Linked DNA regions of Homo sapiens. The protein of the gene in region 4 purifies or fractionates together with the protein of the main gene of each other region. This does not show direct contact. Each region holds a gene or a part of one and is shown on either strand. Other genes may lie near its edges.

Region 1 (7,653 bases), on a different chromosome or scaffold from region 4:
TGATCCCAACTGTTTCTTGATTCACAGACCAGGTTCAGGAGTGGCGTGTTCTTGTGTTTGTGAAGCTGGTTAGGGGCAGAGCCAGGACGGGAGTCCAAGGGCCTCTTTCTTTTCTCTTTTTTGTTTTGAGAGGGAGTGTTGCTCTGTCACCCAGGCTGGAGTGCAGTGGCACAATCATAGCTCACTGCAGCCTTGAACGCCTAGGCTCAAATGATTCTCCCACCTCAGCCTCCCCAAGTAGTTGAGACTATAGGCATGCATCACCATGCCCAACTAACTTTTTGTAGAGATGAGTGTGTTGCTATGTTGCCCAGGCTGGTCTTGAACTACTGGGCTTAAATGATTCTCCCACCTCAGCCTCCCAAGTAGTTTAGACTACAGGCACACACCACCATGCCCAGCTATTTTTTAAAAAATTTTTGGTAGAGACAGGGGTGTTGCTATGTTGCCCAGGCTGGTCTTAAACTCCTGGACTCAAGCAATCCTTCTGCTTTGGCCTCCCAAAGTGCGGGATTACAGGTGTGAGCCACCATGCTCAGTCCTTTTCTTTATTTTCTTGCACCCAGACCTGAGCATTCCTGTGGCAGCAACCAGAGACTGCAGGAGTCAAAACTCTGAGGGAAGGAACCTTCTTTTCTGATGAGAAGAGCTGTGGTCTCAGCAGGATTGGGAGAATCTGGTTGCTTTTTCTATCTTCATGCTCCTGGGCCCAAAATACAGGCATGGTTACAGAAAGTGGGTGGCAAAGGGGGAATAACCAAACCCCCAGCTTTCTGGCTGGCCGATCAGAGAAGGGGACTCCAGGGAAGCTTAGAGAACTGCGGAGAAGAGGAGCTTGAGAAAGCAGCCTGTGAAGTTGTATATGAACTCCTAGACCCACACCCAGCTGCAAGATCTACCCCTAAACTGCATACGCAGACTGAAAGAACTGAATGCTGCAAGAGATACTGCCCAGGACAGACGGGCCACAGCATGGCACACAGCTAGGACAGATTTGAAGGCTTTGAAAATCAAACTGTCACCGCAACTACAAACTACAGAAGGCTGGTTAGAGCTTGCAGCCTGAGCCCAACTGGGTCAATTGCCTGCTAAAACAAAAACATCAATGTTCTCCCTAGGATTTAAACAAGGCCTGGAGTCCTTTAACAATATTCAAAATGTTTAGGATACAATCAAAATTTCTCAATACACAAGAACCAAGAAATTCTCAACTCCTGTGGGAAATAACTCACAGATGCTAGCGCCAAGGTGACACAAGGTTTTGGAATTACCTGACAAAGACCTGGCAGCAGCTATTATTAACCTGTTCCAGTAAGTAAGGGCCAATGCTCTTAGAGCAAATGGAAACATAGGGAGTCTCAGCAAGGAGACAGAAAAACCAAATGAGCACTTGAGAACTGACAAATACAATAACCAACAACCTCAAACAAAAACACAACTTACCAGCAGGGCTCAATAACAGAGTGGAGATGAGACAGGAGAGGAGAGTGATATGGGCTGGGTGCAGTGGCTCATGCCTGTAATCCCAACACTTTGGGAGGCCAAGGTAGAAGGACCACTTGAGGCCAGGAGGTCGAGACCAGCCTGGGCAACATAGTGAAAGCCAGTCCCTACAAAAATAAATAAAATGAGCCAGGTGTAGTAGCATGCACCTGTGGACCCAGCTACTCAGGAGGCTGAGGCAGGAGGATCACTTGAGCCCAGGAGTTCAAGGCTGCATTGAGCTATGATTGTGTCACTGTACTCAAGCCTGGGTGACAGAGCAACACTCTCTCTCAAAACAAAGAGAAAAGAAAGAGGCCCTTGGCTTCCCATCCTGGCTCTGCCACTAACTAGCTTTACAAACACAAGAACATGCCACTCCTGAACCTGTCTGCTAATCTAGAAACAGTTGGGATCAGACCATGTGGTCTCTAAATCCCCTTGTTCCTTATTAAGCTCTAAAAATGAGAAGTCTTAATCTTTTAAAGCTTAATCAATATGGTGACTCTCCTCTTACTACCCAAGGGCAGAGGCAGCCCAGGTATATTTTTAAAAAATCAAACCATGACAGAATGGGGGTCTAATTACAGGAAGAATTCACAGCCCTGAAAAAAAAAAAACAGTTCACAGGAGAAAAGGGGCATGATGTCTTGCCAATGTGGAGAGAGAGGCAGATGATTCTGGTTCACCCCCTGCCCCCGGGATCTTTGAAAGCAAAAAGAACCTCAGTGTTTAGCACTTCTTGGCTACCTTAAGAACAATATCTATTCTTTTAGGATAGATTTTGAATGCTTAGGAATAAAATATGTTGTCAAATTCATCCTGTGAGTGCTGGGGAGGAGGAGTAGATACAGACTGAGTGAGAGTGCCCAAGCTGATGGCCCTTGACGTGGCGTGATGGCACAGGGGAAATCACCACACTATAATTCTGTGTATGGCTTCAATTTTCAATAATAAGTTAAAAAAAAAAAAGACTCTGGTTTCTACTTTGTGATGTGATGATTTCTTCTCATTTGCTTTTTGTTCGAGGTCAGCTACAGAATCATGCAGAACTGTGGCCCCAAAAGCTGCAGGGACAATAGTAACCTGGGTAAGTGACCTACAGGCTCAGGCTCTTAAGACTCCTGTGCAAGGGTGACAAGAGGCATGACCGTCGGCCCACAGCAGACCTGCTGCATGTCACTGGATAGCCAGAATTCCCTTAGACACGTTAAAGAAATGACAGAGTGTATAATGTGAATTAAAAGTTTAAAAAGACAGAAAACCCAATTGCAGAGCCCCAAAAGGGCAGGCAAATTCAATTAAGGGGGGGCCAGATCTCTAGCAGCACTATGCAGAGCAATCCAGCTTTGTGGAACGGCATGGTGGGAGAAGTCAAAGGATAGGTCAAGCCTACTGGTTTGGAGAGGATGATATAAAAACACATCCCCAGAGTCCAGCCCAGTCAGGGAGTCAAGCATGCTTGGAAGGAAGCCAGCAAGGTAGGGAGCTAAAGGAATGCCAGATGAACCCTACATTTGGCTCCTTGCAGGGCCTAAAAGATAAATATTTTAAGGATGAGCAATCACAAGGCAAGCAAAGCATTTTAAAAGCATTTCCCTCTGTATTGGGCTCAAGTGAAAGGAAGTTCTATAGGTGTGTGTTTCAGAACAGCCACTCCAAACTGTCCTCTCGAGGCTCTTACCTTGGTCTGTTTCTTCTCAGTGGCATAGACGATGGAGGTACAACAGACTTCAGCAATCTTCCGGCCCTGACCATAAAAGGACCAGCAGCAGATTTCATCCCCAATAACATCCTTTATGAACAGGACCCTTCCGTTAAAGCGCAGAGACAGCTTATCAAACAGTTCAATGTTTTTCAACATATTGTCGTCAGAATTGCTGCAAAAGAGCATTTGATACGGTGACCACAAGCTGGTAAAAACTGCCATCATTTGCTGGGCCCTTCTACACGCAGGGCCCTACTGAGCCCACTTTCTCCACTACCTCATTTCAACCTCACAATAATCCCATGACAAAGGCACTCCAATCTCCATCACTCAAGAAGGAAAGTGAGGATCAGAGAAATTAGGTAATTGCTCAAGGCTGAACCTAATAAATGGCAGACACGCCCCCCAAAAGACAGCCCTGGCCCCTAAGCCTGAGTGCTCCTAACCATTGTGCTTGAGTGACAGCCTCTGGGCACAGGCACCAGGTGGAGGAGAGCACCTCACCGAGCCCCAAGAGGAGCAGAATGGCACTGCCCAAGGGAGACTCTATATCCTAGGTCTTTTTAAAGATCTTGAGTAACCTGATTAAATCCTCCCTGCATCCCTCAAGTTCCTGAGTTAGAGCCACATGTTTTCAAGGGCCAAATGGCATTCTAGAAACCTGCATATATTGCTGGTGGGAATGTAAAATGGTGCAGCCACTTTAGAAAACAGTTTGGCAGGTCCTCGAATGATTAAACATAGAATTACCACATGACCCAGCAATTCTGTTCCCAGAGAAATGAAAACGTAAGTCCACATAGAGACTTTGCATGAATGTTCATAACAGCATTACACACAATAGCCAAAAAGTGCAAACAACCCAAATGTCCATCAACTGATGAATGGGTAAAGAAAATGTGGTCTACACTGTGGAATATTATTCTGCCATAAAAAGGAATGAAGTATTGATTCATGCTACAACATGGATAAACCTTGAAAACCTCTTAGGTAATCTCATTATGCTGAATGAAGGAATCTGGTCACAAAAGGCCATATATTATGCAATTCCATTCACATAAAAATGTCCAGAACAGGCAAATTCATCAAGACAGAAAACAGATTAGTGGTTACCTAGGGCTGTGGGGTTGGGGAAGCAATGGTTGAGGGAAAATGGGGAGTGACTGCTAACGAATAGAGGGTTTCTTTTCAGGCAGTGAAAAAGTTCTAAAATTAGATAGTCGTTATGGCCTCACAACTTGTGAATATATAAAAACCACATATTGTGAATATAATAATAACTGTACACTCTAGAAAGATGACTTTTATGATATGTGTGAATTATAGCTCAGAGTTATACCCCTGTATCCATCTGTCTACTTATCTATCCAGGCAGAGAGGTACAGAGGGGTCATCCTCATCTGAAGGTACGAAGAAGAGCTGGGCCTGGCTGGTGTGAGTGGAGGTTTTCCTAGTAAATGGAGCTGTCTTTCCCGGCTGACGCCTTACCTGGTATATGAGTATTTGTTGTTACTTCTGTTGTAGAGCAACTTCACGGCTGGCTGTGGGTTGTTTTAAAAGAAGAAGAAGAGAGTTACTTGGCAGGCAGATGCAATGAACTACTAGCTTCCCATAGGGCTGGGGCCCTGCCCTGCATCAGAAGAGGCAGACAAGCATAGCTTGCTGGCTGGAGAGGGGGACCACATGACCCAATAGCAGGGGCACAAAAGATGACCTGTAGCTTCCCACTGTGAACCCATTATCAGGCCTCACTCAGGCAATTATACATGTTTTTATTTCAAAAGTTATTCAGAAGAACCTCCATCATTTCTGGTAGCAAAAGAAATTCCACAAGGGTGCCTCCAACATACCTTATTTGAAGTCGCTATAAGTTTTTGTTCTTCCTTGGATGAGGTGATCACAGGGACCTTGCAGAAAGGCTCATAAGTATCTTTGTTCTGCTGGAACAAAACATGCTTTCAGCCTAGGAGGCCTGCCTAGCACTGCATTTTTAAAGTTGACCGGCTGGACAGGCTCTGGCGAGGGGAGATGGGGCAGTCATGGCTGGGAAGAGAGAAGGATTCTCACCACCAGTGAACTAGATGGGGGAAGACAGGGAGTTGAATTTCCCAGTAAGTCTGCTCTTTGGCTATGACCATGATAGGCCAGGATGCTGAGTAAGTACTAACAATGATGACACATTTTCCACAGCCCAGGAAGCCACTCAAAAATAAACCCTTGACGTGGCAGCAGAAACGTGTTTTAATCAAAAGCTCCTAAAACCCCACTACCATGACTGCAGAGGAATTAAAAAAAAAAGCATAAACCCATAAGGGGAAAAAGAATGGGAGAAGTGAGGTCAGCAGACCAGTAAAAAAAGTCAAAAATTTGAGGGTAGAAAGGTCACAGGTGAGCGTTAACCAAGGAGAGGGGGAAAGCTGAAACCAGTGGGCGGAAGCACTGGAAAGATCCCCAAATCCATCTCCGTCCCCATGCAGGCAGAAGAAAGGGCCATCTTCCTGCAGTGGTTTGCACGGTAGAGGACAGGGCTGAGCTGCGATTCTGAAAACGGGGGGACAAGTGAACATCACACTAAGTGATGAGCAACCCCAGCTCCTTCCCCTTCCAGATCCCCAAAGGCAGCCGGCCAGGCCTAGACCCGTCAGGCAGGAGGAGAGTAGAGGATTCCTCTTCAGGAACACCACCTGCTTCCCCCAAAATGGCTTACAGATTCTGACAGTTGGGGGTCCCGCTGAAAAAGTCTGCCTTATCACCCACAATGCAGCCCAGTGGACAACAAGGACCTTCCATGCACAAACAGCTTTCAGAGTCTCTCATTCCTTCAACAGACAGCCAAGCATCATCAGATTACATGTGAAAAGCCTCTTTAACATGAGAACAAAACCAAAACAAAGACAGGAAAAGAGGAGGAGTCAGATAATGAAGGGAGAAGAAAGAAAACAAACAGAATCATCAGACAGTTGAGAGCAGATACGGCCTCCTAGGAAACAAGATGAGCACGCTGTGGAAAGCAGGGCATTCGGACAGCAAGAAAAGGCTCCTGAAGTTAGAAAGACGAAGCAGAAATGAAAATTTTGATAGAAGGGTTGAAAAGGTGAAAAATAAAACTTCTGAGAAAGTAGAACAAAAGGATAAAGCCAGAGACACTAAGAGGAAAGAATTAGGAGGTCAGTCCTGGAGGTCTAACCTTAGACTAACAGAAACGAGACCCAGGGGCATGTCTCCAAGACAAAGATGAAACAGAACCTCTGATGTGTCTGAACACACCACTATGAGACCGCTGAGAACGTGGGGCTGAAGTAGGAACATATATTTAGAAAACCAAGTGAACAAAACAATGAGGCAATCCCTAACTCTGGCAAACTTAAAGTTATAGAAGAAAGAAAATAATCACTGTACACTCTGTGGCTTAACTGTCAGCCGTATTTACACGTCATGACGTAAACTCTGAATTTAACCAAAACTGTGATGAACTGTACTGGGAGAATGGGAGAAGGAAAAGTATGCCTAAGCTTGGTGGGGGTAGAGGTAGGGGCAGTGCGTGAGCTAAATTCTAGTTTCTATAGTCATGCCAGTAGATAATGTCAAAAACTGGGAATTCAATAAAGAGCAGCACAGGCGAATTATGTGGAAACATAAATGTGAACAGAAAAAACTGCTGAAAGAATTCACAGAGGTTACTGCAAGGGTGAAGGAGAGTAGGAGGGGTATGGTGGTGTTTTGATGTTAACCTTGCAGCACTATTTGACTTCTTGAAGGATGCATGTGCATCACTTTCAACAGTGTAGTAATAATAAAAAAGTAAATGCTGCAACATTCAGTTAGGTCTGCAGTGAGTTCAGACTCTCAGAGTAGAGGTGGTGTGCAGCATTATGGGTACTGGTCCGGTGCGGGGCCAGACACAGACATGTGGTGTGGGGGAGGCCCAAACAAGGGCCTCATGCACACAGACCAGATTCCTACGAAAACCCAAAGGGATGCTTCTGATGCTCTGCCACGTTGCAACTTTGTTTGAAATAAAGGGGTGTTGGCCATGTCTAGAAGCATTTTGTTTTTGTGGGATTTTACTGTCACCAGACCTGACTCCAGTGGTCCTGCTCTGTCTAGCTAAGGAGTGAGGGGTGTCTGTCTGTAGAGATTATGCTGAGCTCCCAACAATGACTTGTGGGACTAGAGTAAGCCCTAAGATTGGTCCCGAACACCGACCAAGTTTCACACCGCGGGGTTCTCTGCTGAAGGGTTGAGATGTACACATGAGAAGATCCAACAGCATGGGGCTGCAAGGAGTGACACAGTAGTTAGGTGGCCTGCTGTTCCAGGGAGGCCTCTCAGGGGTCACTCCAACCGAAGGAATCGGGCTCCAGGGCAAACTCATTAACTCTCACAACATCTCAGTCAGACAGAAACTGCCCCCATTTTGCAGAGAGGGAAAATGAGGAAGGCAGGTAGGCTTGGTGCCTCTC
Region 2 (7,000 bases), on a different chromosome or scaffold from region 4:
GGCATCCCATTAACACTAACACCTAGAGAGCAGATGTCAGGAATTTAAAGTTTTGGTTATGCTTAGGATATATTATGAAAGCCATGACAAACAGAAATTCAAATACATGAGCAATTTATTCTCAACATGGGACTTTTTAAAAACTAGGGGTGGAGAGAGACTCTTAATCCTAATTTATTAATTCCAGTATCTACAAAGTTATATGATATTTTAAAACTTAACATTTTAAGTGAATTTTCATTTGACTTTCCCCTAGGTATAAAAACAATTATTAATATTTATTGATCTACACAGTGTTCACAATGCTTTAACATGTATTAACTGTCAAATGCTTGCAACTATTATTTATCCACATTCTACAGAGAGACAACTGTGACCCATAGTTCCTCACTATAATGTGTACAATGTCACAATTTCTGTCAGTGACTGATCTTGGATTTGAACCCACTTCCCTAGCTCCAAAGTCCATTCCCATAACCACTTCAAAAACTGGCCTTTGGTCTCTAGGATAAACTAGTGACAGCTTATCTAGCAAATCAAGATCTCATTTTCACTTCTTTCATAGGTTCCATTTTATTTTATTTATTTTTTATTTTTTATTTTTTTTGAGATGGAGTCTCGCTCTGTTGCCCAGGCTGGAGTGCAGTGGTGTCATCTTGGCTCACTGCAAGCTCTGCCTCCTGGGTTCACATCATTCTCCTGCCTCAACCTCCCAATTAGCTGGGGCTACAGGTGCCCACCACCATGTCCGGCTAATTTGTTTTCGTATAAGTAGAGATGGGGTTTCACCATGTTAGCCAGGATGGTCTTGATCTCCTGACCTCGTGATCCGCCCGCCTCGGCCTCCCAAAGAGCTGGGATTACAGGCATGAGCCACCACACCCAGCCTGTAGGTTCCATTTTAATAGAAATTCAACCCAGTAAGTACATACTTGAATGCGTTTTTCATCATCTTCCCTTTTCTTTCTCTCTTCTTCTTCTTGTTTTCTCTTTGCTTCCATCTCAAGTTTCCTAATAAAAAATAGAAAACTCTTCAAAAATTTAACAGAAAATAAAGAATCCTTCAGAAGGCAATTTAACTATTATTTAATAATAAACAAAGGTAACAGATTGGGAATGCAAATTAACCTCCTGGCCACATACATCAACTTATTTTGAATAAAATAAAATTTAACTCTATTGACAATAATTCTTAAATAAAACAAATATAATTATATTCTATAACTTTTAACATCTCTAGATGAATGTGGTTACAAAGCCTGGCTGTAAGGTCCTGATTAAAGGTGCTTCCCTCTAGTCCCTCTCCAAGTCAACAACTCATCTGTTCTCTCTACCCTATCATGGCAATCTTTCAAAATGTTATCAGTTTTAAAACTGCAGAAAAGTAGAAGTGTCATTTATCTAGCTTAGAAAACAATAAACAAATCATAGTTTTAAAAAGAAGAAAATCCTCAGGTGTAAGAGGCTAACAAATTCAGATTATAGTTAAAATTATTTTATGGTATCACTATTATAAAATGACCTTATTCTCTCAATTTTCAAACTTATTACAAAATTAGTTCATTAAAATAAGAACACAGTTTTAAGAATTGTCAACCGAGCACGGTGGCTCACGCCTGTAATCCAAGCGCTTTGGGAGGCCGAGGCGGGTGGATCCCCTGTGGTCAGGAGTTTGAGACCAGCCTGGCCAACATAGTGAAACCCCGTCTCCACTACAAATACAAAAATTAGCCAGGCGTGGTGGTGCGCACCTGTAATCCCAGCTACTCAGGAGGCTGAGGCAGGAAAATCGATTGAACCCGAGAGGCAGAGTGCAGTAAGCCAAGATCGCGCCACTGCACTCCAGCCTGGGCAACAGAGCAAGACCCTGTCACAAAAACAAAACAAAACAAATAATTGTCATTAACCACTGTCAATACCAAGAATTCACTATTTCTTTAAGTCTCTTATTCAAAATAATATAAATGCCTCACATCCGCCTTTCCTCCTCTTCCTTTCTTCGACGTTTTTCGTCTTCTTCACGTCTTTTTCTTTCCTTTTCCATTTCTTCTTGAATACGCCTCAGCCTTTCTGCTTCCTCTTCCTGCTGTTTTTTTTTCTGTAATGCACTGAGGAGTTCCTCTGAGCTTTTAACCAGTGCATCATATTCTTTCTGGATTTGTTCCTGCGTCATCATAGTGGACTTTAAAAAATAAAATAAATAGGTACGTAAAAGCTTATTTCTTCTGTTGCACAACAATGTGAATATACTTAACAATACTGAATTATAAACTGAAAAATGGCTAAGATAAATTTTAATGTTTTTATTGTTTTTTACAATTTAAAATAAAAAACTACTCCAATATGCAAATACAGCAAAAACTAGGTAAGATGGTAAGCAATACGTCCGTTATCTTTACTATACTGTTTGTACATTAAATACTATTCAAAAAATGTTTTATGTTATCTCTGCACACAAGTATTACACATCAATTAGACAGGTAATCTGTGGATAAGGTAATATACTGCAGTTAAAAATTATTTCTAGGCCGGGTGCAGTGGCTCACACCTATAATCCCAGCCCTTTGGGAGGCCAAGGTGGACAGATCACCTGAGGTCAGGAGTTCGAGACCAGCCTGGCCAACATAGTGAAACCCTGTCTCTTATAAAAATAAAATACAAAAATTAGCTGGGCATGGTGGTACACACCTGTAGTCCCAGCTACTCGGGAGGCTGAGGCAGGAGAATTGCTTGAACCCGGGAGGCGGAGGTTACAGTGAACCGAGATCATGCCACTGCACTCCAGACTGGGCAACAGAGCAAGCCTCTTATCTCAAAAAGAATTATTTCTTAAGTAATGATCAGCTAATTTAGCAATAGTTTACTACTATTTTAGAATAATGTTCAAATAGTACCTAGAGAATATTTTAAAAATTACAAAATATATCCAAAATTATTGGATTTCTAAAATTAGCCTTCAAAAAATGTGGGTGGGTTAATTTTAATTTATAATGATACCACATAAACAAAGATGGCCCTTGACAGATTTATAAAATCAGCTGAGTCTATTTATAGCATTTTCATTTTCCTCCAGATCTTTTTTTTCCTTTCTACCTCCAAGATTGCCATTGTTTACATAAAATATCTGCAGAAAATATAAAACGCTCACTTTAAGATATTCATTATATCCCACATACTTGCACTGACCTATGAAACTGAGAAAAAGCATTAAAACTCTAAAATATAATGAGAAGATATGAAATGTAATTAATGAAATATGAAATATAATTAACAAGCATATAGAAAAGTCTTCAACTCCACTAGTAATCAAATAAATAAAAATCAAAACAAAATAAGGGATCCCATTTTTTTCCTACAAAATTGGAGAGGAAATTGCTATTTTCACAAAATTAATTACATTATCGTATCTATGAAGATAATGTATTAACATGGACAAGTATATAACAATGGTAGAGATAGAAATTGAAATGTATATTATGATAAGAACTGTAAAAATGTATGCATAAAAGAGAATGTAAGGTAAAGTAAAAACAAGTAAAATTATACTGTAAAAATAACAGTAACTAACTGAATTTGTTAATGTGGAGGTATTAAGAGGTTTTTGGTGGTTTCTCCAATTTTTTTTTTTTTTTAGCCAGGGGTCTCACTGTCACCCAGGCTGGAGTGCAGTGGTGCAATCTCTGTTCACTGCAACCTCCATCTCCTAGGCTCAAGCAATCCTCTAACCTCAGCTTCCTTGGGACCTCAGGCTCATACCACCATGCCCAAATAATTTTTTGTATTTTTGGTGGAGACAGGTTTTGGCCATGTTGATCAGGTTGGTCTCTAACTCCTGAGCTCAGGTGATCCCTGCGCCTGGGCCTCCCAAAGTGCTGGGATTACAGGTGTGAGCCATCACATCTGGCCTCCAAATTTTTTATAGTATTATATTACTTTTATCATTTATTTATTTATTTTTAGACGTAGTCTCACTCTGTCGCTGAGGCAGGAGTGCAGTGGCACAATCTTGGCTCACTGCAACCTCTGCCTCCTGGGTTCAAGCAATTCTCCTGCCTCAAGTAGCTGGAACTACAGGCGCGTGCGATCACACCTGGCTAACTTTGGTATTTTCAGTAGAGACGGCGATTCACTATGTTGGCTGGGCTGGTCTCAACCTCCTGACCTCAAATAATCCGCCCACCTCGGCCTCCCAAAGTGCTGGGATTACAGGCAGGAGCCACCATGCCCCACCACTTTTATTTTTATTTATTTATTTTTTTTGAGACGGAGTCTTGCTCTGTCACCCAGGCTGGAGTGCAGTGGCGCGATCTCGGCTCACTGCAAGCTCCGCCCCCCCGGTTCACTCCATTCTCCTGCCTCAGCCTCCCAAGTAGCTGGGGCTACAGGTGCCCCCCATCACGCCTGGCTAATTTTTTTTTTTTGTATTTTTAGTAGAGACAAGGTTTCACCATGTTAGCCAGGATGGTCTCAATCTCCTGACCTTGTGATCCGCCTGCCTCGGCCTCCCAAAGTGCTGGGATTACAGGCGTGACCCACCGTGCCCGGCCATTTTCTTTTTGCTCCAACTTTAGTTTTCTTTTTTCATTTTTTTTTTTTTTTGAGATGGAGTCTCACTCTGTCACCAGGCTGGAGTGCAGTGGCACAATCTTGGCTCACTGCAATCTCCGCCTCCCAGGTTCAAGCGATTCTCCTGCCTCAGCCTCCCAAGCAGCTGGAATTACAGGTGCACGCCACCACACCCAGCTAGTTTTGTATTTTTAGTAGAGACAGGGTTTCACCATGTTGGCCATGATGGTCTCGATCTCCTGACCTCATGATCCGTCCGCCTCAGCATCCCAAAGTGCTGGGATTACAGGCATGAGCCACCATGTATGGCCTCCAACTTTTATTTTAATTTCAGGGATGCACGTGCAGGATGTGCAGGTTTGTTACACAGGTAAACGTGTGCCATGGTGGGTTTGATGCACAGATCATCCCATCACCTAGGTATTAAGTTGCGAGGGATATCTTTCTTAGCAACAGAAGAAATGGCATAAAAATTGTCTTCTTTAACTTTTTGCTATGAAATTTTTCAAACATAAAGAGTAGAGGTAATAATGATGAGCATGTACTTGCCATCATTGAGTCTCAACACATTTTGTAATTTTGAAAAACTAAGGACGTTTTCTATACAATTTCAATACCAATAACAAAATATATTAAATTACATAAAAAGTCAAAGTCATTCGGGTTGAAATTACATACCTTAATTTTGGCCATCAAAGTATCAATAGAAATTTCCAGATTCTTGATCTGTTTATTCATCTCGGGTTTTCCATCTTTCAACACACTGACTACCTCATTAAATTTATCAAGTCGTTTTTTCAGTGTGCCCACCTTAACCAGACCATCAATGCTGTAAAAATAATACTTCATTAGAGCTTAATTTCATCCTTTAGTACTTTTGGCAGATTTTTCATTTATAAAATGCTAAACAGGGTATTTCACTTCTGTTTTCAATATTATCTACTATTCTCTTTTTCAGATCTCTTGTTGAAGGCTAAAAAAAATCAAATATGAGTGTGAATGACACTGATGCCTGTCAATGGGATTAAAGCCTTCTACAACTTTGAGAATTCAAATCACAGAGGAAATTAATCTAGTCTCTTTGAAAAGGTGTGATGGATCAATAGAGATATTCAGACTTCCAATTTTTAAAAGTGTAAATTAAAAATGAAAGATTCAAATAAGAAATACACTAATTTATAATGGGACAATGTAATTCCTACAGATAATCTTGAAAATTATGTAAACATATTAGTGAGATGTTTTTTAAAAAATGTCACCTTGACATTATCAAGAAACTCAAATAACTAAAATAATCAGAATAAAAGAGCTTCTCTCAACTACTTACTTCTTGTTTTATAGTCTTTACACATTTTTGTATGCCACTTCAAATCCTTTTATAGAATGAGGCAAGTAATAAGGTAATAAATGAATTAACTAACTTCAAATAAATATTACAAATAAAAGACTAATACATCATTTTACAAAGAACATGAGAAAACCTGAGTATCCAAACTGCTTTTTATTATGACTTTATTGTCATTTTGTATTACAGTAACTAGGTTTTGTAGAGTTCTTTTTAGGAACTATTCATCTTACCGAGGTTTGTGTCTCCTCTTGCAAAGCCACATTCGAATAGTTTTTTGCATTTTAATGCAGGCTTCAGCTCGATATTTTATTTTGTTTTTCACTATGTGTAAGAGTAAAATAAAATGATAGAAAATTATTCAGTTTAAATCTAACATATATTAAAAAAACTCATTTTCACAAAGTAATGCTCAAGAAACATGAAATCTTGACGACCATATTATTATATATCAGACATCAAAAACAAAGTTTTAACACCTTTTTTGTTTGTTTTTGTTTTGACAGTCTCAACCCAGGCTGGAGTGCAATGGCATGATCTTGGCTCATTGCAACCTCCACCTCCCAGGTTCAAGAGATTCTCGGCCGGGCGCGGTGGCTCACGCCTGTAATCCCAGCACTTCGGGAGGCCAAGGCGGGCGGATCGTAGGGTCGGGAGATTGAGACCATCCTGGCTAACACGGTGAAACCCCGTCTCTACTAAAAATACAAAAAATTAGCCAGGCATGGTGGCGGGCGCCTGTAATCCCAGCTATGGGAGGCTGAGGCAGGAGAATGGCGTGAACCCGGGAGGCGGAGCTTGCGGTGAGCTGAGATCGTGCCACTGCACTCCGGCCTGGGTGACACAGCAAGACTCCATCTCAAAAAAAAAAAAAAGAGATTCTCATGCCTCAGCCTCCTGAGTAGGTGAGGTGGGACTACAGGCACACACCATGCTGGGCTAATTTGTGTATTTTTATTCGAGCCAGGGTTTTGCCATGTCGGCCAGGCTGGTCTTGAATTCCTGACCTCAAGTGATCCTCCCACCTCAGCCTCCCAAAGTGCTAGGATTACAGGCGTGAGCCACCACGCCCAGCCAGTTTTAACATTT
Region 3 (7,653 bases), on a different chromosome or scaffold from region 4:
TTGGCTGGAGAAAAAACTGATAGGGAACATGTTGAGAAGAAGGGGATGGAGCTTAGCTCTGAGGGTTAAATAAAATTTCGCCACATGTAGAGGTGGAAGAGAGCATTCCAGGGGCCAGCATAAGCAAAGTTGCTGAATATTAAAATTAAATAGCGCTTTTGGAAATATCTTGAGTTGTTTCTTGTGGGCAAGAGAGGGGAGAGGGCTGAACTCATCTCAAGAACCCATTCCTGAGATAATGAACCCATTCCTGCTATAATGGCATTCATCCATTCATGAGGGCCTAATCACTTCTTATTGCATGGGGGAAGTGATGAGGCAGGAAGCTGTTTTTGGAGCCAAATTATGAGGGGGTCTTCCACTTCATCCTAAAAAGTCTAGACTCCTCCCATCCATTGGCAGTGGAGAGCCATAGAAGGTAGAATAATCAGAAAGTTGACAGTTCGTGTGCAGATTGCATTAGAGTAGAGAGGCAGGGAGACTAGAGTGTAGGTGAGAAATGTTGGACAATGGGAATGGATAGATTTTGGAGACATTTTTAGATGTTAAAATCTCTACATTTATGACCAGCTAGAGGTAAGGGAGAGTGAGAAGTCAAAGATAATATGTCTAGTTTGAGCAACTGTTTGCTTATGATGACATTAAGTTAGAAATCACAGGAAGAGGAACAGGTTTGAAGTGGAGAGAAGAAATAATGGCAGTGTTAATTCTGAGGTTTCTGTGGGGAGTTTAAAAAGAGAGATCCACTAAGTAACTGGAAATGCTACTTCAGAGTTTATGAGATGGTTAGGGACAATTGTAATATAGATGTCCGCTGAGGCTGTGGGAGTAGCAACCTTCTAGGAGGCATGTTAGTATAGTAGTTAACTTAGTGGACTTTGGAGTTAGGAAGATGGCAGGTCAAATCTCTGTTATGCTGTTTATTGGTTGGCTGACCTTTGGCAAGTTATTTAACTTCTCTAAGCCTAGGCTTCTTATCTGAATTAAAGAATTGTGGAGATTATACATGTGCACAGTGATTAACACAAAGGTACTATGTGCACAGTGATTAACACAATGCCTGTCTTATAGATGCTTAATATAATAAATGGCAGCTGTTGCTGTTATTGTTAGTAGTAGTTATAGATGTAGAGATAGTAGGAGAGGCCCCAATGCCAGAAAAATGGAGAGTGAGAACTGGAAAAGATGGTGAATGGAACTTTTGGACGTTTAAATCAGTATTTAAACTTGGATCAGTTCTTGTCTTTGTTTTGTGCTGCTATTTCATATTTTATGTTTCATAATGGCAGCACAAAACAAACTAAGACAAGAACTGATCTAAGTTTAATTTATAAAGAACAGTCTGGTTAATTTATAAAGAACAGAAATTTATTTCCTGATAGTTCTGGAGGCTAGGAAGTCCCAGATCAATGTGCCAGTATCTGGTGAGGGCCTTCTTGCTGTGTCATAACATGGCAGAAGGCATCACATGGGTGAGAGAGAGAGGGAAGGGGGCTGAACTGATCATGTCAACCTATTCCCACTCTACTGGCATTAATTCATTCATGAGAAAAGAGTCTTCATGGCCTAATCACTAAAGATCCCACCACTCACTGCTGTTGCATTGGGGAATCATGTCTCCTCTAACACATGGAGGACACATGCAAACCATAGTAGTTCTAAAATTTGAAAATGCATTGGGTAGACCTGGAGGTGGCCAGGTGTGGTGGCTCATGCCTGTAACTCCAGCACTTTGGGAGGCTGAGGTGGGTGGATCACTTGAGGTCAGGAGTTTGAGACTAGCCTGGCCAACATGGTGAAACCCTATCTCTACTAAAAATATAAAAATTAGCTGGGTGGGGTGGTGCACACCTGTAATCCCAGCTACTCAGGAGGTTAAGGCAAGAGAATCGCTTGAACCCAGGAGGTGGACATTGCAGTGAGCCGAGATTAGGCCACTGCACTCCGGCCTAGGTGACAGAGCGAGACTCCATCTCAAAAAAGAAAAAAAAAAAGAAATAGCTGGAGGCTTTGGTAAAGCACAGATTTCTGGGTCCCACCCCCATAGTTTCTGATTAAGTAGGTGTGGACTGGGGCTTGAAAAATTGCATTTTTGAACAAGTTCCCAGGTGATGCTGATGGTGCTGTTAGAGGATAGATGAAAGAAAAGGAACCAGCACTAACAAAGTGGTTGAAGTGTATGGAGAACCAGGAGATAGTTTAGAGAAGAATAAGAATTTTAACAGCCTCCAGACTCTCTAGGTCTACCAGTCTGATTTCCAATTTCGTAGAGCTTATCTCATTCTTATTTTTGTTTTCTCCAGAATCTATTATAATGCCTGATACATAGCAATAACCTTTGAAGCTGCTTAATACTGTCCTGGTGCATGATGGCATGTACCTCACACACAGATTTCATTTATCCTCTTTTATCTCTGATGAGTCATGGGGAGGATATGATTTCTAATTTTACACACACACAAAATAACTACAGAAAATTTCTTTCATATATCTGGTGTGTAGCTATGTGCATTTGACTTTGTGTTAGATGCCCTCTCCCCCCCCTTTTTTTTTAAAAAAAAGGAACAATCCAGTTTGCAAAATAATTTTTAATAATATGTGCCAGGATTCCAGTCTGTGTCCTGTATTAGGCACATTGAGTCTTAAAAGGGAAGCAAATAATATATTCCCTGTTCCTGGGAAGTTTACAGATAAGATGGGTGAAATGAGCAAAACCCACAGGAAAGAAACAGGAAGAGGTATAATCACAGAAACATGGATGTAGAGAATCTGAATCTAAGGACATATTCTTTGCTTGCCAATATTCTTTGGGTTTTACATGTTTCATATACTGAAGACTTTTGGCATATAGCACACATGTTAGTCCTAGTGAGAGGAAGTTATAAGGGAGTTCCACTATATAAGGAAATAAAACAGTAGCTGTGCAAAATTATAAACACATTTGTAAAGGGAGTGAAATTGGAGTTAAATTGGAGCTTCATGACTGACAGCTTAGCTACTCACTATTCTGCCTAGGTGCTTGTTCTCTCTCATTTATCTCCCAGCTAACATTCATTAAGCATTTATAGTGTGCCAGAAATCGTGTGAAGTGCTGGGCATAGAGAAAACAATAATTGCCTTGTGCACCTAATTCTGGTTTTACTTGGGGAAAGGAATGTGCACACATGTATGCATATTGTCAGGGTGAAGGAGCCTGACTTTTATAATCTTAAGATTATATTGAAGGAAGAGACATTGAGGACTTGAAGTTAAATTCATTCAGCCTTATGTATTCAAGGGGCCATGACGAGTATAGGGATGGGGCCATGACGCGTATAGAGATGTATATTTTTTTTTTAGCAATCAAATTTGTAATTTGATAGAGGAGAAAGAACATATTTGGAGTAATAAAAAGAATACGATAAGTACTGTATAAATATTGATTACAGACTAGGTACTCTGGCTTCTTAAGCAGCTAAGTGTTCAGTTTTAACAGCAACTCATAAGCTATTGTAATGTTTCAGAAATTATAACATGTCATAAGTCCACATTAACCTCCTGGGCTGCCTTTGCATCTGAATATGAGACACAAAAATATTCTGGCAGTCTGTGTCCCTATTTTCTTGATTTGGGAAGTATATGCATAATGCATATAAGCAAAAGAGTAATTAAAAACAAGGTGCTATTTATCTAATGGCTACATTATGCAAGGCCCTTTCTATATACTGTTTCATCCTTGTAATGACAACCTTGTCAATTTGACATTATCTCCATTTTACTAATAAGGTAACTGAGTTCCAGAATGGGAACTGTTTGTCTGTAGCTTGTGGCCAGTGAGAAGTGGGACTGGGCTCCAGTACAGACCCAGGTGTGGACTCTGCAGCCTGTGTTCTTTTTACTTCATGCCAATTCCTTATGTCACCATGGGTCTTCAGCATGTTAATATCTTGATGTAGAAATGCAGTCTCATTTCTACTGTTTTAGGAAAAGTTACTGGAGGAAGTTAGAATTTTAGTAACTGCCTAAATGTTTGAAGACAATTTGATAATATAGTTAGGGATGGAAGGGAATGGGGGCTGGATAATTAATGGCCCCAGTGCTGATTCTCCTATGAAGACGTGCTGTATTTGACCCCAGTTATTTTTTAGTTGACTCACAGGAGATCTTACATGAATATTCAGATTTCCCACTTTTTATTTATTTTTATTTTTTTCAAATAGAGACAGGGTCTGGCTCTCTTGCCCAGACTAGAGTATAGTGGTGTGATCCTAGCTCACTATAACCTCGACCTCCTGGGCTCAAGCAATTCTCCCTTCTCAGGCTTCTGAGTAGCTGGGATGACAGGTGCATGCCACCATGCCTGGCTAATTTATTTTTGTTTCTATGTAGACAGGGTCTCACTGTTTGCCTAGGCTGTTCTTGAACTCCTGGGCTCAAGGGATCCTCCAACTTTGGCCTCCCAGAGTACTGGGATTACAGGTGTGAGTCACTGCACCCAGCCCCACTTCTTTATGTATAGGTGCCAAGTTTTCTAGAGGAGGAACTGTACTTTTTCAAGTACAGTTCAAGTTTACATTTTTCAAGTTTACATTTTAGTAAAGTCAACTCTTTTAAAAAATCCCTTAAAACTTCACCCCAAACAATGTTTACCTGAGATTTCCCAGCTAATCTCCCTTCTCTGCACATTACTTATTTCCTCCACTTAGGTGTTTATTTTTAAACCTATTTACAAAATTAATACATTCTATTTATGGTTCAGTGTAGTTATTCTGACTTGCAAGGTTTTCATTCCTTGCAGTTTGACTAAGTCACTCTTTGGTCCTATTTTATACATTCCTGGAAATATAGACTGTAACTATCTTTGTAAATGATAGTTAATTTCAGTTAATTTTACAAGAAATATTTCTATAAATTTATAATTCTGCAAATGGAATAACTGTTAAATCAAATTCTATGTTATCTATTGCTGTGTAACAAATTATCCCAAAATTTAGCTGCTTAAGACAACAAACTTTTTTTTTTGAGATGGAGTTTTGCTCTTGTTGCCCAGGCTGGAGTGCAGTGGCACGATCTCGGCTCACAGCAACCTCCGCCCCCTGGGTTCAAGCCATTCTCCTGCCTCAGCCTCTGGAGTAGCTGGGATTACAGGCATGCGCCACCACGCCAGGCTAATTTTGTATTTTTAGTAGAGACGGGGTTTCTCCATGTAGGTCAGGCTGGTCTCAAACTCCAGACCTCAGATGATCTGCCCGCCTTAGCCTCCCAAAGTGCTGGGATTACAGGCGTGAGCCACCGTGCCCAGCCAACAACAAACATTTTTTAATCTTATGATTTCTGTGGGTCAGGAATTCAGAACCAGCGTAGCTGGGTAGTTCTGGCTGAGTCACTGATGAGTTGCAATCAAGCTTTTGACCATTGCTATAGCAGTCATCTGAAGGCTTGACTGGGGCTGGGGCTGGGGCTGGAGGATCTGCTTCCGAGATGGTACACTCACATGGCTGTTGACAGGAGGCCTCAGTTCCTTGCTGGCTGTTGGTAGGGGACCTCAGAAATTTCATAGGGTTGCATGAGTATCCTTATAACATGTCAGCTAGCTTCATCCAGAGCAAGTGATGCAAGAGAGAGCAAGGAGGAAACCATGTGCCTTTTATGTCCTGTTTTGAATATAACACTGTTACTCCTTCTATATTTGATTTGTTATAACGTGGCACTAAGTCTAGCCCATACTCAGGGAGGAAGGCAGTTAGGTTCCACCTTTTTTGAGGGGAGAGTCAAATAATTTGTGGGCATATTTCCAAACAACCATCAATCCTTTTTCCCGTGAAGCCATTTCTTCAGTTGATGTTGATTGTCTCTGTTTTAGCACATGCAATAATTTTTCTGACTTGTATATTCATGGTATTTTCTGGAAATGCTCTGAAGAAAAGGTAGTGGTTTTTAAATTTTAAGGAAAGTTTTCACAAATTACAGATTTGTTGTGGATTCCTTGAAGTTTTATATCCATCACATTAGCTTTAGTACTAATGCAGCCAGAATGTTTTCATTTTTATCCTATTCTATTCTATACATTTATTCTTATACAATTGTATTCATATTTAATGGTTTTAAATTAATCTAAAATAGAACCAAACATTTCTAGGTAAGGTAATTCACTTTCCAAACTTTTAGAAGAAAAATGCTTCCTCAACCACTGTCTGAAGGCACGTGTTTCAATTTCCATATGGTACAGTGACATTGGGCTGCATGGCTTAGATGAGTCTGCTAATTTATAATCCAGTCCTTTGGGTACTTTACTAACTTTTATCCTCAAGTAAGGTCCTAAGTAGATCCATTTTATTTCAAGTCTCATTCTTTAGAAGGTGTATGTAGGACATAATTGGCTTAGGCAACCTTTTCAGAACATATTGCAGTTAGGTTTATATTTTGGCACTTCATGTCAGATATTAACTTTCACTATCCTGACCCCTAACAAGTATAAATTACCTGCTTAACTCTTTTATTCTAGTTTTTAATTTTAATCTAATTTTAGACATACAGGAAAATTGCTGGAATAGTACAAAGAATTCTTTTATAACCTTCACCACATCTCCCAAATGTTAACATTTTACCACATTTGTTTTATCCTTCTCTCTCTCCTTTTGCCCCACTGAACTGTTGAAGAGAAAGTTGCAGATATAATACCCAATCCTTCAATGTGCATTTCCTAAAAACAAGGATATTCTCTTATTAACTGTTTTACAATCATTAAATACTATCGTTGTAGCTAACCTATAGGCTTTATTCATATTTCATCAATTATCCCAATTGACTTATCAATGAATACCCTTTAGAGCAACAAAAACAATAAAAATCCAACACACAAGAACAAAGTGAAACAAAACAAAAAACCAGCCATGTGGTGCATTCAGTTTTTCTTTTTTTCTTTTGGTCTCCTTTTTTTTTTTTTTTTTGAGACGGAATTTCACTCTTGTTGCCCAGGAGTGCGGTGGCACCATCTCGGCTCACTGCAACCTCTGTCTTCCGGGAGCAATTCTCCTGCCTCAGCCTCCCAAGTAGCTGGGATTACAGGCATGCACCACCATGCCTGGCTAATTTTGTATTTTTAGTAGAGACGGGGTTTTCACCATGTTGGCCAGGCTGGTCTCAAACTCTTGACCTCAGGTGATCCGCCCACCTTGGCCTCCCAAAGTGTTGGTATTACAGGCATGAGCCACCACGCCTGGCCTGGTCTCCTTTAATCTAGAATAGTGCCTCAATCTTGTCTTTATAACACTGACATTATATAAGGGTTTAGGCCAGTTTTGTTTTTATTTATTTATTTCTTTTTTGAGATGGAGTTTCATTCTTATTGCCCAGGCTGGAGTGCAATGGTGTGATTTCAGCTCACTGTAACCTCCACCTCCTGGGTTCAAGCGATTCTCCTGCCTCAGCCTCCCTAGTAGCTGGGATTACAGGCACATGCCATCACACCCAGCTAATTTTTGTATTTTTAGTAGAGACAGGGTTTCACCACATTGGCCAGGCTGGTCTAGAACTCTTGACCTCGTGATCCTCCTGCCTCGGCCTCCCAAAGTGCTGGGATTACAGGCATGAGCCACCGTGCCCGGCCTATTTACTTTTTTAATAGTATGTCTCTCACTTGAGGTTTATCTGGTTATGATTAGATCCACATTA
Region 4 (7,653 bases):
GGCCTGCCTCCTTATTGTGTGACTATTTTGTTTCTACTTTAAAATTTTATGTTCTCCTACACTGAGGATCACCCCTAAGAAATTCATTATTGGAAATCTCCATAGGGAATGAACTTATTAACAGAAAACTTTCAAGGAACATCTATCATATGTCGTTTATTATACTAGATGCTGGAGATATAAATAAGAACACCACCAGGCCTGGCATGGTGGCTTCATGCCTGTAATCCTAGCACTTTGGGAGGCTGAGGTGGGAGGACTGCCTGAGCTCAGGAATTTGAGTTCAAGACTGATCAACATGGTGAAGCCTTGTCTCTACTAAAATACAAAAAAATCAGCCCAGTGTGGTGGTATATGCCTGTAGTCTCAGCTACTCAGGAGGCTGAGGCACAAGAATTGCTTGAACCCGGCAGGCAGTGAGCTAAGATCATGCCACTGCACTTCAGCCTGGGCAACAAAGTGAAACTGTCTCAGAAAAAAAAAAAAGAATATCACCTAGTTCCTGCTTTCAAGGAATCTGAGAACACTGACGATACTGTTTATTCTACCAGGTCTTACTCTCAGGATCCAACCGTACTCTCCTGGAACATCAGCTTATTTTTAACTTGTAGACAGTGTAGAGAAGTTCCAGAGCCAACTCTGCCTGCTTCCTCTAGAGAAATTTATAAAACCTTACGCAATACACTTCATTCCAATCTTCACTAGTGTTTCCTTATTTTTTAAAGAAATCTGGGTGTGCTATATTGTAAGGACTTCAGATACTTCTTGGATAAGACAAGAGTAATATAAGTAAAATAGTAACTCGGACAACGCTCTTCTCTCCAGCATAATTTCTGTTTTATAAATACAGCCTAGAGCCATGCTGCTTAACCTCAGAATTATCTGAAGATCTCTTTAAGATAGCACTGTATCAGATCCTTTCTCCAGAGATTCTGACTCCAGTGTCTCTTAAGTGGCCTTAGGTAGGGTGTGCTGTTCACACTCAGAAAAAAAAACCCTACTCACTCTGATCCCCACACTGACAGCAAAGGATGGCTGGCTGAAAATCTCAACAACAGTATTCAGGTAAGTTTGCTCCCCTACTCACTCTGATCCACACACTGACAGCAAAGGATGGCTGGCTGAAAATCTCAACAACAGTATTCAGGTAAGTTTGCTCCCCTACTCACTCTGATCCACACACTGACAGCAAAGGATGGCTGGCTGAAAATCTCAACAACAGTATTCAGGTAAGTTTGCTCCCCTACTCACTCTGATCCACACACTGACAGCAAAGGATGGCTGGCTGAAAATCTCAACAACAGTATGCAGGTAAGTTTGCTCCCCTACTCACTCTGATCCACACACTGACAGCAAAGGATGGCTGGCTGAAAATCTCAACAACAGTATTCAGGTAAGTTTGCTCCCCTACTCACTCTGATCCACACACTGACAGCAAAGGATGGCTGGCTGAAAATCTCAACAACAGTATTCAGGTAAGTTTGCTCCCCTACTCACTCTGTTCCCTACACTGACAGCAAAGGATGGCTGGCTGAAAATCTCAACAACAGTATTCAGGTAAGTTTGCTCCCCTACTCATTCTGATCCACACACTGACAGCAAAGGATGGCTGGCTGAAAATCTCAACAACAGTATTCAGGTAAGTTTGCTCCCCTACTCACTCTGATCCACACACTGACAGCAAAGAATGGCTGGCTGAAAATCTCAACAACAGTATTCAGGTAAGTTTGCTCCCCTACTCATTCTGATCCCCACACTGACAGCAAAGAATGGCTGGCTGAAAATCTCAACAACAGTATTCAGGTAAGTTTGCTCCCCTACTCATTCTGATCCCCACACTGACAGCAAAGAATGGCTGGCTGAAAATCTCAACAACAGTATTCAGGTAAGTTTGCTCCCCTACTCATTCTGATCCCCACACTGACAGCAAAGAATGGCTGGCTGAAAATCTCAACAAAAGTATTCAGGTAAGTTTGCCTTTGCAGTAAGCAGATCTAGGGAAGCAGCATGAAATGAACCAAAAAATACTTTCCCATCATTTATTATCTCAGTAGGGAACGAATGGTGCTGGTGAACTGATACGCATGAATTTCTCGATCACATTTTAGCAGAAGAGGAACAAATACTAATTTGATTAATATAATATGAATTAGTACTCTTAATTGGAATATCACTCAGTAGAAATTGAATTTTATGAGGTCTTATGTTTCAGCTTTAACGAGAAGATTTTGCAGGGAGGAAAAAAATCATTCTGTTGGATTTTATGAACAAGATTTCCTTTTATTATTTCCACTAGTCACTGGTAATACTAGTGAACACCTGAGAGATTAAAATACAGATTTGCTTTGAGATCCTGGAAGTATTATACCAAATTAAATTACTTACTTTGAAAACCATGAGAAGAATCAGAAGAGGATGGCATGGACATTAAAATAAAATTTCCCTATTAATAATAGGGAATAAATGGTTCTAATGAAACATTAGTCTTATTCAATTATGATATGTGAAACTATCCTGCAACAGAGAACAAATTTCTTAATATAATCTCAAAGATAACAGTAATAGAAACCAATCTTTTAAACAACAATCTCACTCTGTAAATTTATGGACTTGGCATGTTCTACTTCTACTAATTCAAACCAAGTGCATATTTCCGTCAAGTCTATGGAGGATACAATGTTTCCTACAGAAGTAGTATTACCACTGCTTTCTAAATAACCCACGCTGAAAGGTAACTATAAAAGTTATCTAGGAATAGGAATTGACCATTTCCATCTCTTCATCTTTTATTCTGGTTCCTCCCAGAAATATATCAACATTCTAAGATTATTTTGCATGGTAAAAACAGACATGAAAATATATGTCCAATACCTAGTACTGCATTTTTTAAAAATTACAAAACACCATGTAAAGTGTATGGTCAGATGTATTGATCATGAAAATGGATGCAGTTATGCACACATGGTCTTTTCACAGAGAAAGAAAAAAGATGACAAATGTAAAATGAGGATGGGGCAAGGCTAGTCCTTAATAGATAGGAATATTAGTTGGAAATATGTATTCGTTTGACTAAGCAGAAATAAAATATGTTAACTCTGAAAATTTGGAGAGATGAGAAACAGACAGGATGAAGAGGAGGAGGATATATAGAACTTAATATTTTGGTATCACAAAATATAGGTGAGCCAAGAATAAAACTGGAGCTTAACCAATGAATGGAGGATTCACCTGTGTCTGGGAGCTTAGGTACCACAACTGCTTATAGTACACTATGCAGCCCCTTCCTCCCACTAATAACAAGAATAGTCACATGTGAATGGAATAAGTAAATGTTAAGGGAACAATAACACAGTAGCTCCATCTTGGGGCAGGTTCTGAGGAGTGATTTGGAAAGAATATGTACAGAATGCAAAGCATGAAATCACAAAGGGACAGAAATGTTTTAAAAATGAAAGGAACTATAATATAGTTACTACACTGTGATTTGAGCTTAGATACCTCTTGACATCTACTAAAAACTACATTGTTGTGGACCCACATAGCTTCACCTGCTCTACGCGGTAGCCTTGTACACGTGGGGGAAAAGTGCAGCCCTACATAATGGTAGAGTTCACCAGCCACTATAATGGTGGTATTCTCCATAGCACTGTAGTATCCAAATGTTGCTGTGATACCATTATCTTTTTAAAAAATGCTGAATTATCTGCCTCTCAGGATCAAAATCAACGACAATTATTTGATCTACATGAAAATAAGTTAAGTATCTGGACAGATTTGTGCATGCCTGCGACAGTCACAATACTACATTGTAGCACTGTAAAACAATCTTCTATTGAAGTAATAATTCCTTCTAAAGTTCAAATGATAATGCTGAAGCCCAACCAGGTAATGCTGCAAGGAAACCTCTGTCTGCGAAAGATGAAATTAAACAAACAAAAGCTGGAACTACTTCCTTAAAACACAAAACATGCAGATCTTGCAAAAAAAAAAAGTTATTCAATAATATCCACTAGCAGTTATAAAAAGAGACAAATGAGTTTGAGGAAAATATATGCGCTTAATTTATAGCTTCTCTGAGAAATAGCATTTTCTATACCAGAAAACATGTTGCCCTAAAACATATTTGCAACTCAGTGAAGAGTAATCTTTTAAGAAAATAAAAAGACAATATATTTTCAATTTTACTAGAAACTATTTTCTTAATTCCTATACAGTGTTTACTTTGACTTATTGATTTCATCAGCTAATAGTTCATTTCAGAATAATGTTTTTAAATATTTATATGTTTATGCATTTATATCTTTGGTTTACAGGTCTATACACTTACTTTTTACCTGTGATATACTAAATAGTTTTGGTCAATTTTCTCTTAATCTTAAGAATTCCGAAAAACATCAAATAGTTATTAATGGTAGTATTTTACTATTGCACAAAGTATATATGAATATACCGGTAGTATTATTTTGGCCAAATTTAAAATTACTACTCTTGATAGCTTTATTGAATTGATACTCTTGATAGCTTTATTGAATTGATACTCTTGATAGCTTTAGTGAATTGGTTTGGGTTTCTTGCTGATTTCACAGCTTTCTCTGCTACTTGCCAAGAAAATTCAAGCCCACCCAACACAGGCAGAGTAGGTAGAGGGAAAGTCAACAGAATTATCTCATTTATCTTGAAAAACATATAAATATATACAGTGGTGTCTGGCAAAAAGGTAAACTAAATTGTTAACTGTGATAATCTGAGTGATGGAATTTGAAATGATTTCTACTGATTTCCTCACACTTTAAGATAGCTAAAACTTTTTAATAATGAGCATATCTTATTATAAAAATAATATTGATAATCAAACACAACTTAATAAAAATGGACAAACCTGTTGTCACAGAAGTCTCTGACTCTCTCAATTTCTGAGACGCTAAAAGCTTTTCCTGCAAAGCTTTCTGGGCAAGTTGTGCATCCCATTCTTCTAGTTCTTTTTCAAATCGTTGGTTGTCTTCCTCAACAAAATCTCTCAAATCCGGTGGTAATGTTTCTATACCAACAAGGGGCTGCCCAGTTTCTTTATTAAACTCCTCTGCAAATCATATTTCAAAAACTAGTATAAAATTAAGAATTAAAGGGAAAATGCAAAGCTCAAAATAGACTGCATTTCAAATAGAATTTAAACTATGAATTATTACCACTCAGCCAATCATATTACTTAAGAATTACTATTGCTTAGCAAATAATTATTATCTACAAAACTTTTTAAAACTCAAACAAATGCTCAGAAAAACAATGATGAAAATATTTGATAATCCATCATAGGTAATGGTCTCAGATTTTTTTTTATCTTAAGAGTAGAAGTGACAGAAAATACAAAGCCAAAGCCAAGTTTTTTGTTGCTGTTGTTGTTTGTTTTTTTGAGACAGAGTGTCATGCTGTCACTCAGGCTGGAGTGCAGTGACACAATCTCGGCTCACTGCAACCTCCGCCTTCCGGGTTCAGACGATTCTCCCGCCTCAGCCTCCCGGGTAGCTGAGACTACAGGTGCCCACCACCAAGCCCGGCTAATTTTTTTGTATTTTTAGTAGAATGGGGTTTCACTGTGTTAGCCAGGATGGTCTCGATCTCCTGACCTCATGATCTGCCCACCTTGGCCTCCCAAAGTGCTGGGATTACAGGCATAAGCCACCGCGCCCGGCCATTTTTTTTTTTCTTTGCTACTCTAACAGTGATGTAATACTACTTCTGCCACTATTGGAAAATACCAGATGTTTGATCACTTAAAAAGTAAAACTTTTCACAAAATGTAAACAACTCATAATCATGTTAACCTTATTAGCTCAAAATAAAATGAAAATTGTTTGTCATATGAAGAAATTAAGTAGACTTAAATATGCAATTATGAAAATTAATATAGCAAGATCTTAAAAACAATAGAGTATTCAGAAGAATTACTGAACTTCTACTACACACACAGAAAAATAACTTCATTTTTTTAGTCAGAAGTGGACTGCCTAGCTGATTCTGAATGACTAAATATAAAAAGATTATTTTTATCAGTTTCAATAAACCTTTATTATTTTCTATATGCAAAGCATATATCAGAATATCAGCATTAAAAAGATTCAGACATAGTATGACATGATCTCTGGCTCTGAGCAGATAAGAGAGAAATGTGCAAGACAAGTCATCACACAGTTCCAATACACAACAGTAAATGCCCAGTAGACAGATGCCAGGACAGCATAAGGAGAGATACTTTTTGGCAGATCAAGAAATAGTTTGCAGGGGAAATGACACCTGAATTGAATCTTGACAGATAAACAAGAATTAGGCAAAAGAATTACTAGCAAAAAATAAAACATATACGAACATGCAAACATAAATGTGTGAAATGGTTTGATATGAGCAGATACAGCAAGAAGTTCAGTAAGGATATAAATTCAAAAGGAACACTGGTGATCAATGAAGGTGGGGAGATAATCAGAGGCCAAGAACAGAGGCCATATATGTTAGGCTAAGGAATTAAATATTAAATGTGAGTCAATCTGTGGAACAGTCACTAAAGCATTTTTAGCAAGGACGAAAAAGGTCATATTTACCTTTAATAGTTGACTTGGAATACAAAATATATACGAATTCTTAGCCCTGACGACATTACTTTTCAATTCAGTCTTGTCAAAACCCAGTAGCATTTCCTAACCACATCCTTCATCGTCTGAGTGAATTACACTTAACTAATCACACCACATACCAGAGCCACTTTTATGACTATTTAAAAATACACACCACCCTATATATTCTTACCTTGTATTAGGAACTGTGCCTTATCATTTATGTACATTAAACAGTATGCACTGGCATTTCTATAACCACCAAAAGAGTCCCTCACTAGCTCTTCCCATGATGATTTTGTCACAGCAATATCATTGTACTTCATCCATCTGCTTTCACGATGATCAAAAATATATGCCCAGTAGTGCCCAGCATTAGCTTGGCCTTCGTGAACTAAAACGGCATGTAATCGATAAGGAACCTAAATGTGAAAAAAAGAAGAGTTAAACTGCAATTATGTAGTTTACTATATACCACATTCCATGAAACCCACAAACAACCTGTTTGGAGAAAACCATAAGAGCATTTTTTTTTTTAAATGAGAGAGAACTGGCTGGGCTTAAAAGTTTGAAAAAAACTAAACTATAAAACTTTAAAAAGACGGAATCTGAATAAGCTAAAGATATGCAAAGTTGATAGATTAAAAAGATGATTTTTGAAAAACTAAAAATGTATTTATTGTGTACATACTCATTGGCCTAATTGTTTATTTGAATAAAAAGCTTATAGTGGGCAGTTTTACATATAGCAAATGTGTCTACATCTTCAGAATTCTAAATTGACGGTTAACAAAATAGATTATATGATATACACCAGAAGTTAAAATGTAATGGAGTCCTTAAGTTTCTTCCCAAATCTTAATATCCTTTAACAACCATAGATTTTCTCCCATAAGACTTTTTAAAGATGCTATAGCCTTTTGAAAAACTTTGGTAGATTTTACTGTAAAATAGTAAGGGTACACAACACATACGGTGTGAAAATACAACTGAATGGGGAAAACTTGTCATGAATTTTGTTATAAATTTGTTATAAAAGTTTCCCCAT

The links.
Region 1: the proteins of USP25 (region 4) and KCTD10 purify together in Homo sapiens (affinity purification with mass spectrometry; 5 studies listed by BioGRID and IntAct, with this or other methods). This does not show direct contact.
Region 2: the proteins of USP25 (region 4) and MYO6 purify together in Homo sapiens (affinity purification with mass spectrometry; 2 studies listed by BioGRID and IntAct, with this or other methods). This does not show direct contact.
Region 3: the proteins of USP25 (region 4) and BTBD9 purify together in Homo sapiens (affinity purification with mass spectrometry; 4 studies listed by BioGRID and IntAct, with this or other methods). This does not show direct contact.

What each region holds. Positions count from the first base shown.
Region 1 is NC_000012.12:109,452,952-109,460,604, forward strand, and holds part of KCTD10 (BTB/POZ domain-containing adapter for CUL3-mediated RhoA degradation protein 3), read right to left. Parts: intron 5,131-7,653; coding exon of another isoform or gene 5,128-5,130; coding exon 5,041-5,127; intron 4,732-5,040; coding exon 4,679-4,731; intron 3,363-4,678; coding exon 3,167-3,362; intron 704-3,166; coding exon of another isoform or gene 536-703; exon of another isoform or gene 1-535. UniProt on the Homo sapiens protein: Substrate-specific adapter of a BCR (BTB-CUL3-RBX1) E3 ubiquitin-protein ligase complex. The BCR(BACURD3) E3 ubiquitin ligase complex mediates the ubiquitination of target proteins, leading to their degradation by the proteasome.
Region 2 is NC_000006.12:75,885,239-75,892,238, reverse strand, and holds part of MYO6 (unconventional myosin-VI), read right to left. Parts: intron 6,236-7,000; coding exon 6,145-6,235; intron 5,396-6,144; coding exon 5,245-5,395; intron 2,183-5,244; coding exon 1,974-2,182; intron 1,012-1,973; coding exon 933-1,011; intron 1-932. UniProt on the Homo sapiens protein: Myosins are actin-based motor molecules with ATPase activity. Unconventional myosins serve in intracellular movements. Myosin 6 is a reverse-direction motor protein that moves towards the minus-end of actin filaments.
Region 3 is NC_000006.12:38,629,477-38,637,129, reverse strand, and holds part of BTBD9 (BTB/POZ domain-containing protein 9), read left to right. Parts: intron 1-7,653.
Region 4 is NC_000021.9:15,830,775-15,838,427, reverse strand, and holds part of USP25 (ubiquitin carboxyl-terminal hydrolase 25), read right to left. Parts: intron 7,028-7,653; coding exon 6,799-7,027; intron 5,102-6,798; coding exon of another isoform or gene 5,088-5,101; exon of another isoform or gene 5,081-5,087; coding exon 4,880-5,080; intron 1-4,879. UniProt on the Homo sapiens protein: Deubiquitinating enzyme that hydrolyzes ubiquitin moieties conjugated to substrates and thus, functions in various biological processes including inflammation and immune response.